2 linked regions of the Homo sapiens genome follow. The protein of the gene in region 1 interacts with the protein of each later gene in a pairwise test. Each region holds a gene or a part of one and is shown in the gene's direction. Other genes may lie near its edges.

Region 1 (7,027 bases):
CACGGCACTTATTAAAATACTTGGTGTATAACCCCCTGCCCTGTTACATATTAGCACATGGAATTACAGAGGGCCCCATGATTTGTATAAGAATCTCCAGGGAAGCAAAGTCACCTTTTGGAAATAACACCTGAGATTTGTGTCTGGGACCATGCTTACCAGATGTCAGAGCATCATCTGATCAGTGAGCAACAGATTGCTCAAACTGGCCAAAGTGTGGTGGCTACGTGGTGGCTCCACAAAGGTGCCCAATCTCCCAGCTTTGGGCCCTACCATGTAATGATGAGAGAAACCTTCTCTTCTCCTTCTCTGCCAAGTCCAGGGTTTGCCAGCTGCTCAGTAATAGGTTTGTTTTTCTGGGATGAGACAGTTGCTGCCTCTTAGAAGATGGCAAAACAAAGCCTGTAATCCCCCCCATCCAATTGTGCAGTAATCCTCAGGGTGAGAAGGAGATCAGGGAGAGAGAGGACTTCTCTCATTTCATTTAACAAACACACTGTAACACTAATGCTCGCTACTATTGTAAGCACTTTACCAGCCTCGGCTCATGTAATCCTCATAACAACCCTAGGAGTAGGTACTGTTACCATTGTTCTCGTACTCCTTTTAGAGACAAAGAAACAGAGGAATTGAGAGGTGAAATAACTTGCTTAAGGTCTTATAGCTAGAAAATGGCACAGCCAGGGATTGAACCCAGGCAGACTAGCTCCCAGAGTTCACACTGCTGAGCTGCCTCTCACAGCTTCTGTGAGTGACACAGTTGCTCTGCAAAGCCAGGGGCAGCAGCACACCCCCAGGGAGCTCCCGGTGCTCCAATACAACCTCAGATATGCAGCCTCAGCACTGACTGGTTGTTGCAGACCCAGTGGACTGGCCATTGAGGAATAAGCCATGGGATAGGTTAAGAGCAACGGTGATCTCTGCAGAATTAATTGGTGGCTTCCCTTGGGTACATACTTATTTGCAAGAGTCCTGTCCAACTGACCCTGACCATTCATGTAGAATAGTTGCTTTCACTTGAAAATAGCCATAGAGAAGGGGTTGAGTTGGACCTGCTTGTATGTGTGCGTGTGCACATGTGTGTATATGCTAGAACATATTTTTCCCCTCCACAGATATGTGGGTGGCTAATTGGAACCTATCATGGGCATAAGTGGTTAAGGTTTATGTGGAAAGGAGTAACTGTTTATGAGATTTAGGAAGGAACATATTTCGTATAAACTATTTTCTAAAACATTTACAATCTCACCAAGAGATAGAGAGCTGAATAGCAACTGGGGGAAGAAATTGTGCAAAGAGAATCTAAATGCCCCACCTCTTCCTTCCCCTCATTATGAAGCTTCTAGGTCTGCAGAGAACTTAGCCACCAGCATTGGATCGCGGGTGTGCCAGGGGCTCCCAGAGGAAGCTGGTGTTTTCTCCTCTTTTTAAAAGTAGAAGACACAGAGGCCCAGGGAATGAAGTTAATTTTCTAGAATGCATGGGCTTTGGTGGCTCTCATGAGATTGACTCAGCCCTGGCTCAGTGATCCTCAGAAAAAAGTGAAAATACAGGTTGAGTATCCCTAATCCAAGCATCTAAAATCTGAAATGCTTCAAAATCCAGAACTTTTTGAATGCCAAAATGATGCTCAAAGGAAATGCTCGTTGGAGCATTTTGGATTTCAGATTTCTGGATTATAGATGCTCAATTGGTAAGTATAATGCAAATATTCCAAAATAAAAAAAAATCCTAAATCCAAAACACTTCTGGTGCTAAGCATTTTGGATAAGAGATACTTAACCTGTATCAACTCGTTTCATAACTAAAACACCACTTTAAGGTCGGTAGTTTTATTACCCCCATTATACAGATGTAAAAACTGGGGGACAGAGAAATTAATAATTTGCCAAAGGGAACTTGGCTAATAAATGATAAAAGTGGCATTTGAATATGAGGAAAAGCAGCAGATCTGGATTTTAATCCCAGCTCTACCATGTACTATACTGTACTACTCTGTAAATTCTTACAGCAGTTACCCAGCACAGACCTTCCTGCCCCTTCCCAATTCAATACTTGGCCTCTCCCAGGATTTTGACCCTGGCCTTTCTCACTAGAACACTCCACATCTTGACTCTATCTCTTCACAATTCAACCCCTAGTTTGGGTTCCCTTCCTCAGGGCTCCCAGCCCAGCCTAATCTTCTTCTCCCTCCTCTTTCCACATAACAGCCACTCAGACACCAGGGATTAGCTAATATGCATTTCTTATATTTGAATTATTATCAGCATATTCAAGGGGACTTTCCTATAAACATTTAGGCTGCACAATCACCCTGAGATGGAATGGGAAGGTATTTTATAACTGTTTTACTGGTGCAAAGCTTTACATTTTAACCGATGTAGAAAACAAGATGTTAGACATTAAATTTCCAGTGAATGGGGAGCAGAGAGAAGCTTTCTTCTGATGGGAAGGAAACCTTCTCTGCTATGGAAGCCCTTTCTGGCTTCCTCAGTGGGGAAAAATCAAGGAATGTGTTGGAGAGTGGAGAGCATGTAGAAGAGGCCCTCCTTCTGCCCCCAGAGGCTCAGGCCTCTCAGCCTCTCAGTGGGAATGTGAGAATGAAAGCATGCATTAGCTGATGGGTTGACGCTGCTGCATGCTTCACGCAACCCCAGTTCGGACCAGCTGGCTAGCCTTTCGAAGCCGCACAGGGCAGTTCCACCTGGATTCATGTAGCCCCCAGAGAAGGGCTGATGAGCTGCTCAGGGTGGGAGCTGGGGTTGCTTCCGGTGCTTGAAGGAAGGGGGAGGGAGAGAGTGGCATCCCTGCCTCTCTCCCTCTCCTCCACCCCCCTCCTCCCCTCGCTCCCACTCCTCCCATCTTCCTCCACCCCCGCCCCCCTCCCCTAAAATCTGTAATGATGGAGGTAGTGAAAAGCAGGGAAAGATTGATAATCAGCCTCATTATTACCAGCATTATATATAATTATAGCAAAACCTCACTCATTTGGATCAATTGAGAGAAAAATCAGTCTAAATTCGTGACAAGTTGGCAGATTACTTTTAAATTACAATTTTATTACTTCTAAGTAACACATGTGAACAGTTTGTGTTTCAAGTACCACAAGCTAATGGTTACTCAGTGGGGATTTTAGAAAACCTGCTTTAAAAGATTCTTTTGTAATTAACACCCCGTTAATATGCCAATGTGCTCCTTCTATGCTTTTTAAATTGCTTGAAAACATATGTATCTTAAATAGGCTTAACATTTCTACCATCTTATTTGCTTAACAAACCTTTTTTATTATTATTTTGTGAATGAACAAATACAAACTAGTTTATACCATGACCAGTTTAGTCACCACTCTGAATTAATTATGTTGTAAATTAATAAGACCATGTTGGTTGTTTTTGTTTAGAAATCAGACTTTTAGAACTTGAAGAACCACCTCATTTTATAGAAGAGAGGTTGAGAGACTTGCCCAAGGCCATATAGGCAAAAACAGCAGGTCTTCTGGCCCCTGGGTCCAAGTTTATTCCGTCTGCTAGATAATGCCTTACATTCCTAAAACTCTTTATGAATATGTGCTATTTATTTCCATACCAATCATTGGGTTATCTGTCAAAAAATATTTGGTGAGTGTCTATTCTGTGCCAAGCCGTGTGCTTAATCCCCATATAATGGGGATAATAAAACTACGGACCTTAAAGTGGTGTTGTAGTTATGAAATGAGTTGATGCAAGTTAAGTATCCCTTATCCAAAATGCTTAACACCAGAAGTGTTTTGGATTTGGGATTTTTTTTTTATTTTGGAATATTTGCCTTATACTTACCAATTGAGCATCTATAATCCAAAAATCTGAAATCCAAAATGCTCCAATTAGCATTTCCTTTGAGCATGATATTGGCATTCAAAAAGTTCTGGATTTTGAAGCATTTCAGATTTTAGAGGCTTGGATTAGGGATACTCAACCTGTATTTTCACTTTTTTTCTGAGGATCGCTGAGCCAGGGCTGAGTCAATCTCAGCACAACAGATAGAGGGGCCCCTCCTGGAGGCCACCGTCTATTTCATTCAAACTTCAAACTGACAGTGTAGTCCGTAAGGCGGAAATTATTCCCATTAGACAGATTAGGAAACTGAGGTTTAGAGTGATAAAGTGGCCCTTTTAAGGCCTGCTGCAAATTATTATAGATCTAGAATTTGAGTCTAGTCTAGCAGAATTTCTGTGAACATTTCTGCATATAATGAATGACATTTTGCTTGCACACCACCTTTCCCAGCCAGCACCAAATTATAGACCTTGCTAGTACAGATGGATATTATGCCATCTCTAACAAATGAGAGGCTCCAGGGGATCCTGCTAACGAGGACCGGCTGGCTGTCCCTTTAAGCCAATTCCGTATACTGGTACATCATGTACCAGTTAGTCCATGGAGGCAGATGTCAATGAGTGTTTGAAGCAGATGCCAATGAGGGTGCCCCCAGTTCTCCTCTCGTTCCTAAAGTCCTTGAACATCAATTATGTGCACACCCAGCTCTTGAATCCATGACCTCTGTCCATTACTGTCTCTGGATTTCTTGTTCAGATAGGCTCTCTCTATCTGAACAGGGCAATCTCTATAGATTGTCTTCTAAAGACGGCAGTCTCTTAAAATACAGCGAACTATATTCCTAGTCCCATGTTACCATTGGGTAATATTCAGAACATTATCTGTTCTCAGGTTCTAAATCCCTGAATTCTTTGAATCCATTCACTTAAACTCAGCCCTAAGAAAAATGTGCAGAAATAATTAATCTCCAAATATTTTGAAGACATCAGAGCTTGTAACTAGTTTGTACATTCTGCCAGGGCAGGGAATGGGCTTCATGCTCTTGGTGTCTTACACAGCCCATATACAAGCAGATGCTTAGCCAGGCGTGCTGGCTGACTGACTGACTGGCATTCTTCTTGGTCTAGGGTGTTCTTCCCCTGCTCTCCAACTTCTGCTCTCCACATCGCTAGGGCTGTGAAAACAGATACTGTGAGCCCTGAACCCTCCAGGAGGCTGCTTCCCCATGACACTAGTGACCAGTAAAATGAAAAGGAGGAGCAAAGGAGATTTTGAGTCACAGAAATGAAACCCAGGCAACCAGCCTAGAAGAAACACTCCAAGATATTCATTAAGTGCTTTGTTTCCCGTTCCTCTGACATCTTGTAAATGCTTTTTGAATTAAAGATGATAACAGGCTTTTCCACTTTTCAAGTTTGGTTGTTAATTCTGAAATCCCACCAGGAGTTTGGGATTGATCTTTAACCTTGAAACTCTTGCTGTCCCCCACTTCTGTCCCCATCTGGTTACAGTAGCTGATAAAAGAGGCCAAGGAACTCCAGGTTGTTCCATTTGCATTTGAGGAAATGGAGGGGGTCAGGACTTCTCAAGGTCACTGCCTGGGGTGAGGGTCTCCTGAAAATGATAGGAGTTGGAAGTCCCAGGTCATGGCTCCCTTTCTGTCTGACCTCATGAGTGCCTGCCCTGGGATGATTTGTTAAAACGTAGTTTTCTGAAAATGGTGCTCCCTCCGAGGCAGAATCCATGTCTTATTTACTTTGTCAGCATCTCATAGTGTGCAGTCTGACACTTTAAGAACAGGCGAATCTCCTCTAAGAAAAAGGTACATACCAAATTCTAGCTAAATTTAGTGCCATAGTCTCCAGATTTTCTATAAAGGGAGCTAACTTTTATTATGTGTTTACAATTTTCCAGGCTTGATTTTATTTAACCCTCACACTGTGGAAGGTTAACCCTTACCCCATGTGGTTGGTGGCATTGAGCTATTTTACCAAAGGGTGGGAGGAGGACTCACTGTGGTTCAGCCCCCTCTACTCCCCTTCCTGCCATCCTAGGTGGCTCCAAGGGGACTCAGGGAAACTCAGTTTGAAGACCACAAACAGCCACAGGTCATGGGCAAGCCATACCTCCTTTCCCCAGTGTCCTTGCTTGTAACCGAGGGGTTGAACTCGATGATCTGCAGGCCCTTCTGTGTAGCTTTGACAGTCAATCCAGCTCTGTGAGGGGAAAGCTGGAGGAAGAGCAGTGTGGAGCTAAGGTGTTGGGGATCACTGCTAACTGAAGAGCAATCAGAAATGGTAATGATAATAAAACTTCTCCAGAATGATCCCCTAGAGGTCTGCAAGCTTATTGGAATGCAGCCACATCTGTGTGCACTAGCTTACCCATTGATTGTGGCTGCTTTCACACTACAAAGGATATTGTGAGTAGTTGTCACAGAGATGGTACAGCCAGCAAGACTGAAATGCTTACTGTCTGACCCTGGAAAGAAAAAGTGTGCCAACCTCTACTCCAGAATGCAAAATTGGGTTTCACATATTAAAATAAATTGAGGTCCACCTGGAAAAGTATTTTAATCCTTGTTTTATTAGCACCTTTGGGGGCCCAGTCCCCTGCCTCCCACTCCTAGTCATTTTGTTCATTTGGTGCAATTATGTGTGTTCAAAAGGAAAAGAATGCATTATGATCCATAAGTAAGTTGTGAAGAGCATAGGGTAAGAATTGAGTATCTTAGTTGTTCTTACATATAATCCACCCATTTGGGGCTTATCTGGGCTTACCTTCCACTATCTCCCCTCCATCCTGGCAAGTGGCAAGCGCAGTGCAGGAGTTCAGCACAGCGGCCCCGGCACAAGACTGCTTGGATTTGGATCCTGGCCCTGCTCTTTACCAGCTAGCGGGTCTTGGGCAGTTTGCTCAATCTCCCTGTGGCTCCACTTTCCTGTCAGTAAAATGGGGATGAGGATACTAATAGTACCTTATTTCCAAGCGCCCTTGAGACTATTAAACAAGATGATGCATGCCATGCCCTTGGAAGGGTGCGTGGCACATAGAAGTTGCCTAATAAATGTTAGCCACTCCAAGCTGAGTATCCCTTATTGGAAATGCTTGTGAATCAAGATATTTCAGATTTTGAATCTTCTTTTGATTTTGTGATGTTTACATTATGTGCTTACTTGTTTTGCATTCCTAATCCAAAAATCCCAAATACT
Region 2 (7,027 bases), on another chromosome or scaffold:
CTTGGGCTGTGGGTGCAAATACAAAAATACTGGTGGCATTATATCTGTCCTCTGGAAACATGGTGAAGACTATATTTCCTGACACCAAAGAAGGGAAAACAGGGCTCAAGAAGGTAGCTCACCATTTAACAGCTTGTGGTGAAACCCACCAGAATGGTGCAACACTGCATGGAGTTGATGTGTTGGAAAGTCAGGCTCTCCCACAGTACCTACCAGAGGACAGCGGGGCCGCTCACAGGAATGCTGGAATCCCCATCCAGCAACCCAGAGGGCATGCATGGCTATAGACTTAAAGATGCACCACCTTTTTTTTTTGAGGCGGAGTCTCTTTCTGTTGCCCAGGCTGGAGTGCAGTGGCACGATCTCGGCTCACTGCAAGCTCTGCCTCCCGAGTTCATGCCATTCTCCTGCCTCAGCCTCCCGAGTACTGGGACTACAGGCACCTGCCACCACGCCCGGCTAATTTTTTTTGTATTTTTAGTAGAGACGGGGTTTCACCATGTTAGCCAGGATGGTCTCGATCTCCTGACCTCGTGATCCGCCCGCCTTAGCCTCCCAAAGTGCTGGGATTACAGGCGTGAGCCACCGTGCCCAGCCAAGGTGCACCACCTTTAAATGCAAATTTTTGCATTTTTAGTAGAGATAGAGTTTCACTGTGCTGGCCAGGCTGGTCTCAAACTCCTAGCCACAGGTGATCTGCCTGCCTCAGCCTCCCAAAGTGCTGGGATTACAGGCATGACCCACTGCACCTGGCTGGGAAAATTGTTATAACATGGATTAAGCAGGAATACTATGATTACACACACACACACACACACACACAACGCGCACACACACACACACACACACACACACACCACCCCCTCACCTCTCCCAAGGGGAAAATGCATTGAAAAGGACTAGAAGTAAATATGTTATTCCAGGTTCTCTGGGCAAGGAGTTGATAGGTAAGGATTTGAGATGGAATAAAGGGGATATTTCATGGGAGCCTTGGTGCTGGTGTTTGGACCTGGTGAAATGACAGAAGAGCTGTCTGGAGCATGCATGGACAGGGTCTGCACAGAAAGACCTGTGGGGTGTGGAAATGGTGGTTTGGTCTGGCTGGAGGTGGGGTTAGAAGTGAAGGCTGGTGGCCGGGCGTGGTGGCTCACACCTGTAATTCCAGCACTTTGGGATCCTGAGGCAGGCGGATCACCTGAGGTCAGGAGTTCGAGACCAGCCTGACCAATATGGAGAAACCCTGTCTCTACTAAAAATACAAAATTAGCTGGGCGTGGTGGCGCATGCCTGTAATCCTAGCTACTCCAGAGGCTGAGGCAGAAGAATCACTTGAACCCGGGAGATGGAGGCTGGGGTGAGCCAAGATCGTGCCAGCCTGGGCAACAAGAGTGAAACTCTGTCTTAAAAAAAAAAAAAAAAAAAGTGAAGGCCAGGCGTGGTGGCTCACGCCTGTAATCCCAACACTCTGGGCTCTGGAAATCTGAGGTGGGTGGATCTCCTGAGGTCAGGAGTTCGAGACCAGCCTGGCCAACATGGTGAAACCTTGTCTCTACTAAAAATACAAAAAATTAGCCAGATGTGGTGGTACACGCCTGTAATCCCAGCTACTCGGGAGGCTGAGGCAGGAGAATTGCTTGACCCCAGGAGGCGGAGGTTATAGCGAGCTGAGATCGTACCACTGTACTCCAGCCTGGGCAACAGAGCGAGACTCCATCTTTAAAAAAAAAAAAGGAAGTGAAGAGCAGGGCCAGGGTGGGTCGAGGGCTCTTTTAAGTACTTAGGGAGATGACCTTGTCTTTGACCAGACTGAGATAGCAGCTTACAGAGGGAGCGAGAAACCCTGAACATGGAGAAGATTTAAAAGGTAGCATGGGGTTGGCTCTGACAGTATACCTTCTCTCTGAATGAGTCTTTTGTGTCCTTCTCTTCAGGTTCAGATTCAGAACAAGAAAGTGGACATCTCTAAGGTCTCCTCCAAGTGTGGGTCTAAGGCTAACATCAAGCACAAGCCTGGTGAGTGGTGCCTCCCTTGCCCACTGGGTCTCCAGGGTATGTCGTCCTGCCATGGGTCAGCTGGGCAGCCAGCTGGCTGGCAAGGGTTTCATCTCTGTGCCTTTAGCATCCCATGAAGACTACCCAGGACACCACAGTCCTCATTCTGTCAGGGAGCAGGAGTTCGGGTGCTAACCTCTAAGTGGAGGAGGAGCAGTTTCTTACAGCAGCCATCTGCACAGGCATTCTCTTGAGTACCTACTGTGTGTGTGGAACTATTGAGCTAGGCCTGGGGAAGTGGTGCACTCTGAGCTGAGAACCTGGATTGGCTCTAAACGAGGATTACAGAAGCTACTGCTGAAGGAGCTGTATAGAGGGCAGTGTTCAGGTCCCACCTATCAGATGCAGGAGCAAAGGGTGCTCCCAACCAGTGAAGCATCAGCCGCTAGCCCTGGCAGGAGAATGGGAGGCGTTCAGCAACTTGCACTAATGCAGTTTCCTTCCAGCAACATGGTTGGCCCAGCGCCCCTGTGGAAGTCGCTGTGCGGAGGCTGGGCTCTTGCCTTGGGTAGTCCCCTAGCAGCCTCGTGTCCTAGTTCCTGGGTCTACAGCAGATTTGTGAGTAGGACTGCTGTAGCAGCAGGCACACTGGCTGGCAGACCTGGTATCCCAGAAGGCTAGCCACCACAGGCCAGATAAGGTGAAGGCAAAACTCTCTTCCCTCAGGGCGGGCGCGGTGTCTCATGCCTGTAATCCCAGCACTTTGGGAGGCCAAAGCGGGCGGATCACTTGAGGTCAGGAGTTTGAGAACAGCCTGGCCAACATGGTGAAACCCTGTCTCTACTAAAAATACAAAAACTAGCTAGGTGTGGTGGTGCATGCCTTTGGAGAATTGCTTGAACCCAGGAGGCAGAGACTACAGTGAGGCGAGAGTATGGCACTGCACTCCAGCCTGAGCAACAGAGCGAAATTCTGTCTCCAAAAAGAAAAAAAAAAAACTCCCTTTCCCTCTCAGCGAAGAGCATGATCCAGTTTAGAATGTGTTCTATTTAGAAAGATCAAAACAGTTCTGTCCTTAACTAACCATTTTTTTCCCCTTTTATCTGGGAAATCTCCTATCAGATACTTCCTTCTCTAATGACACTGAGTCACTTAGGGTCTAGTTTTTGCCAGGGCTGGGTTTCCCAATATGGGACACCGGGAGACCTCGGCCAGAAGCTGTGCGTGGAGGTCTGCCATGTGAGCTGAGAGGAGATGGAAGAACAGGAGAAGGGGCCCAAGGGAAACCACGCTGCTGGGCGCGGGAGGGGCTGGGTACTCATTGAGGGCAGCTCGTCCCGCACCCTTCCCCTTGGTCTCATGGGCACACTCTGGCCAGTGAGCTCTGAACCCTGGGCGTGAGTTCAGACCACTTTCCCTCCCCGTCCTAGCCTGAGGTCACTAGATCCCAGGCCTGCCTTGGTCCATGTCTTTCCTTCCTCAGCGCACAGCCTCGGGGCCACTCTGTCCTTTTTATTATTCCTTCTTTTTGCTAGAGTGTGGTACGGTTTAGGGTCTCAGACAATTTTCACAACCTGTCACTGTCAATCAGCAGATTGGTGGTAACTCTGGGTGAGTCCCTTCTCTTTTGCAGCATCAGTTTTACCGGCTGGGAAGCAGGGACCGTGGCCGTGATGACAGGGCATTCATGAGAATTCAGTGAGGCTGTGCCTGAGAAGCACTGCATGGCCCAGTTAGCGGGAGGGCATTCCCACACAGAGTAGAGAAGCAGAGGCTTCGCCCTGGAGGCTGTGCTCGGAGCCCCAGGCCTGCCCAAGCCTGGCCTGCAGCTCAGTGGCTGTGGCATGGGGTGGTGGAAGGGATGGCTTTCCTTTTCTTGGAGGTATTCCCACTGGCTGGACGGAGAGATTGTCTCAGCCTCACTGTGATATGAGAAGTCCTCTTTAGACAAACGTGTTCACTGTTCTTCATTTGCCACCCAGAACAGGTCACGTCTGTCTCATTTCTAGATTGGGCATATCGCTAGTCCTGGTTTTGCCTGCAGGGATATTCCTCTGCCACCCTAGGTGACCAGTTCCTTTGTGGTTCCAGGTGGAGGAGATGTCAAGATTGAAAGTCAGAAGTTGAACTTCAAGGAGAAGGCCCAGGCCAAGGTGGGATCCCTCGATAATGTGGGCCACCTACCTGCAGGAGGTGCTGTGAAGGTAGCGAGTGGGTCACTGGGGAGACACAGCTGGGGAGGGGTGGGAACTATGCAGTTAGGGTCAGGGTCCTCACAGGTAGGCACCTGTCACCGCCCCTCAGTCTCTTCAGGAGTCATGTCTTCACCCACACCATTGCCGTTTTCCCACCGTGTATCATCAGTCCTGACTGAGGCAGAAGTGAAGAGGCCCCAGCCCAGCCACCCCTCACCTGTCAGCTGGAGGCAGAACCTTGCTCCTGAGAGCCATGGCCTTCCTAATTGAGCCCATCCAGCCATTTGAGAAGGCCACGGACTGGGACACAGACCACCCCCAGGCGAGCGGGGGTTCTGCACCACACAGTTCTCCCCAGCTGTCTCGCGCCAAGGGGAATGTGGGTTCCCGCCCCATGTCAGGCTCCGCTCCTGGGTTAGGAGCAGGACAGCACATTCTTAGCTGCCAGCGACAGCAGGCTGCCTGGGGCCTCCCTCTGCAGGGCCTGCCTGGGGCCTCCCTCTGCAGGGCCTGCCTGGGGCCTCCCTCTGCAGGGCTCTGGGACAGAGCTCAAGTGGCAGAGGTTCCCATCCTCACGACTGGCTGGGCCTCTTCTCCCTTCCCTCTCTCCTCTTTCCTCCCTTCCTCCTTCCACAGTACTGTGAGACCTTTTGTGTGCCAAGATGCTGTCTGTCCTATGTTCCATGTCATCCGTGGGTGGGGGGCCCATGAGGGGCATCTTGCAGACCCCGAGCACAAGGATGGCTGCTGCTGCTCGGGTTCAGGTGCGCAGGGGAGAGGGGCCAGGAGCCGCTGCCCTGGGCCTTCCCTTCCATCTCTGCTCCCCAGTGCCAGCCACTGCCCAGCCCGTCCCCTGTCCCATCCTCTCCTGATGCTCTGACTGAAGCCTTGATCAGCTTCCAGGAACATCTGGGGGGGTCCTTGCTGCCACAGGCTCTCAGTTCGTGCCCCCCATACCTCGTGAGGATGCCGTTCTCACGCCCGTCTCAGTGGGGCGTTAACTTGGCTTTAGTCTCTTTTCCAAGGACACAGCGAGCGAGCGTGGACCAGGATTCACATCTGGGCTTTTCTGACCCTAAGCCTTGTGTTCTTTTCCTTGTTCACATTATATCCCTTTATTAGTTCTGGAATTATTGTTTTTAATCGAGGCCTATTTCTCACTATGCCGATTAGAAACCACTTCTCCCTTGTCACTTTTTGGGTATTTGGCGACACACGCTTTCCAGCTCCCCAGTGGCCTCTCGCAGCTGTTCTCTCTTCTCTGCCTTCCTCACACTGAGTGTTCCATGTCCCCCAAATGTCCTCCTCCTATGACGCCCTCCAGGCCTCCACAGTGTCCCTGGGTTATACCTCCTTGGACACCTTTCTGCCTCCCATGGACCCCTGGTCCCAGAATGGTGCCCCGCACAGACAAGGCCTCAGCACCTGTGTTCCTGACCAGACAGATGTGCAGGCAGGGCTGCCCGGGAGCTACTGAGGACCCCACTCTGTGTGCAGGGGGTGGCCTGGGTTCAGGGAGGGTTTGGGAGGGTGGGCTGTACCCTTCAGGGGGCTACCCTTCAGGCTTATTGCTTACTGTTGTCATGGCTACGTCTTTGGTACCAGCCTGAGGCCTGGCACCTCTGCCCTCAGAGAGGCTTCATCAGAGCCTCACATGCCACAGAGGGGCTCTGAGAGTGTGTCACTGGTCCAGCTGCTCCTGACCCTCGGGAGTCGGTCTCCCAGGTGAGGTGGGGTGGGTGGGGCCGGGGCACCTGCCTGGGATTCTCCAAGCGACTGTGCCTTGAGCCAGTGGGTGCCAGGGCAGCAAGGGTGGGGGCTGTGTGTGAAACCCACCACCATCACCCCATCCCACTCCCCCCCTCGACTGACCCTGCACTGTCTCCCCCACTGTTTCATTGTAGACTGAGGGCGGTGGCAGCGAGGCTCCTCTGTGTCCGGGTCCCCCTGCTGGGGAGGAGCCGGCCATCTCTGAGGCAGCGCCTGAAGCTGGCGCCCCCACTTCAGCCAGTGGCCTCAATGGCCACCCCACCCTGTCAGGGGGTGGTGACCAAAGGGAGGCCCAGACCTTGGACAGCCAGATCCAGGAGACAAGTAAGTGGCTGGGCTCGGCCTAAGGGCCAGCCAGGGGCCCTGCCACTGGCCGCAAATTGAAACTCCTTTGTTTTTGACTAGAGTGTGGCCTAAATTTTAATGAAGTAACCTTTTATTTTCCAGGCATCTAATGATGACATTCTGGTCTCGTCTTCCGTCTCCCCCGTGTTCCCCTCTTGTCTCCCCTGTTCCCCTCTCCCTTCCCTCCTCCCATGTCACTGCAGATTGAGACCTACAGGCTGACGTTCCGGGCAAATGCCAGGGCCCGCACCGACCACGGGGCCGACATTGTCTCCCGCCCCCCACACTTCCCTGGCGGCCCCAACTCGGGCTCCCGGGTCCTTGGCCCCCTTTCCCGGGCTGTCCACTAGACCAGTGAGCGCTTGGGCGCCGTGCTGGGCAGCCCGCTAGGCTCGCCTTCCCTCCTGCTTTGCGTGCCCGGGGCAGCAGCAGCCCTGCCCCACACCTCCTCTCACTCCCCAGCCTGGGCCCATCTCCCTGCTTTGGTCTTGCCCCATCACTGCGCCACTGCTCCGTGGAGGAGGTTGGGAGGGGGTTGGGGTGGTTGAGGCTAAGTTGGGATCTAGGAGAGGAGAACCAGATTCTATCCTCATCTTTTTTTGGTTCTTTGGTCCAAACCCAAAAGAAACTGACATGCCCTCCCTTCTCCCTGGATCTACCTGGAGGGAAGAGTGGAGGTGGATTCCGAGTGGTGACAGGACGCTGACCGTGGAGCTTAAGCCACT

What was found. The genes of interacting proteins can lie anywhere in the genome.
Region 2: the proteins of RXRG (region 1) and MAP4 interact in a two-hybrid assay, tested with the Homo sapiens proteins (one study listed by BioGRID).

The regions. Positions count from the first base shown.
Region 1 is NC_000001.11:165,435,117-165,442,143, reverse strand, and holds part of RXRG (retinoic acid receptor RXR-gamma), read left to right. Parts: intron 1-4,942; exon of another isoform or gene 4,943-5,213; intron 5,214-7,027. UniProt on the Homo sapiens protein: Receptor for retinoic acid. Retinoic acid receptors bind as heterodimers to their target response elements in response to their ligands, all-trans or 9-cis retinoic acid, and regulate gene expression in various biological processes.
Region 2 is NC_000003.12:47,852,417-47,859,443, reverse strand, and holds part of MAP4 (microtubule-associated protein 4), read left to right. Parts: intron 1-1,931; coding exon 1,932-2,013; intron 2,014-4,083; coding exon 4,084-4,196; intron 4,197-6,091; coding exon 6,092-6,281; intron 6,282-6,386; coding exon of another isoform or gene 6,387-6,412; exon of another isoform or gene 6,413-6,505; coding exon 6,506-6,510; coding exon of another isoform or gene 6,511-6,652; 3' UTR 6,653-7,027. UniProt on the Homo sapiens protein: Non-neuronal microtubule-associated protein. Promotes microtubule assembly.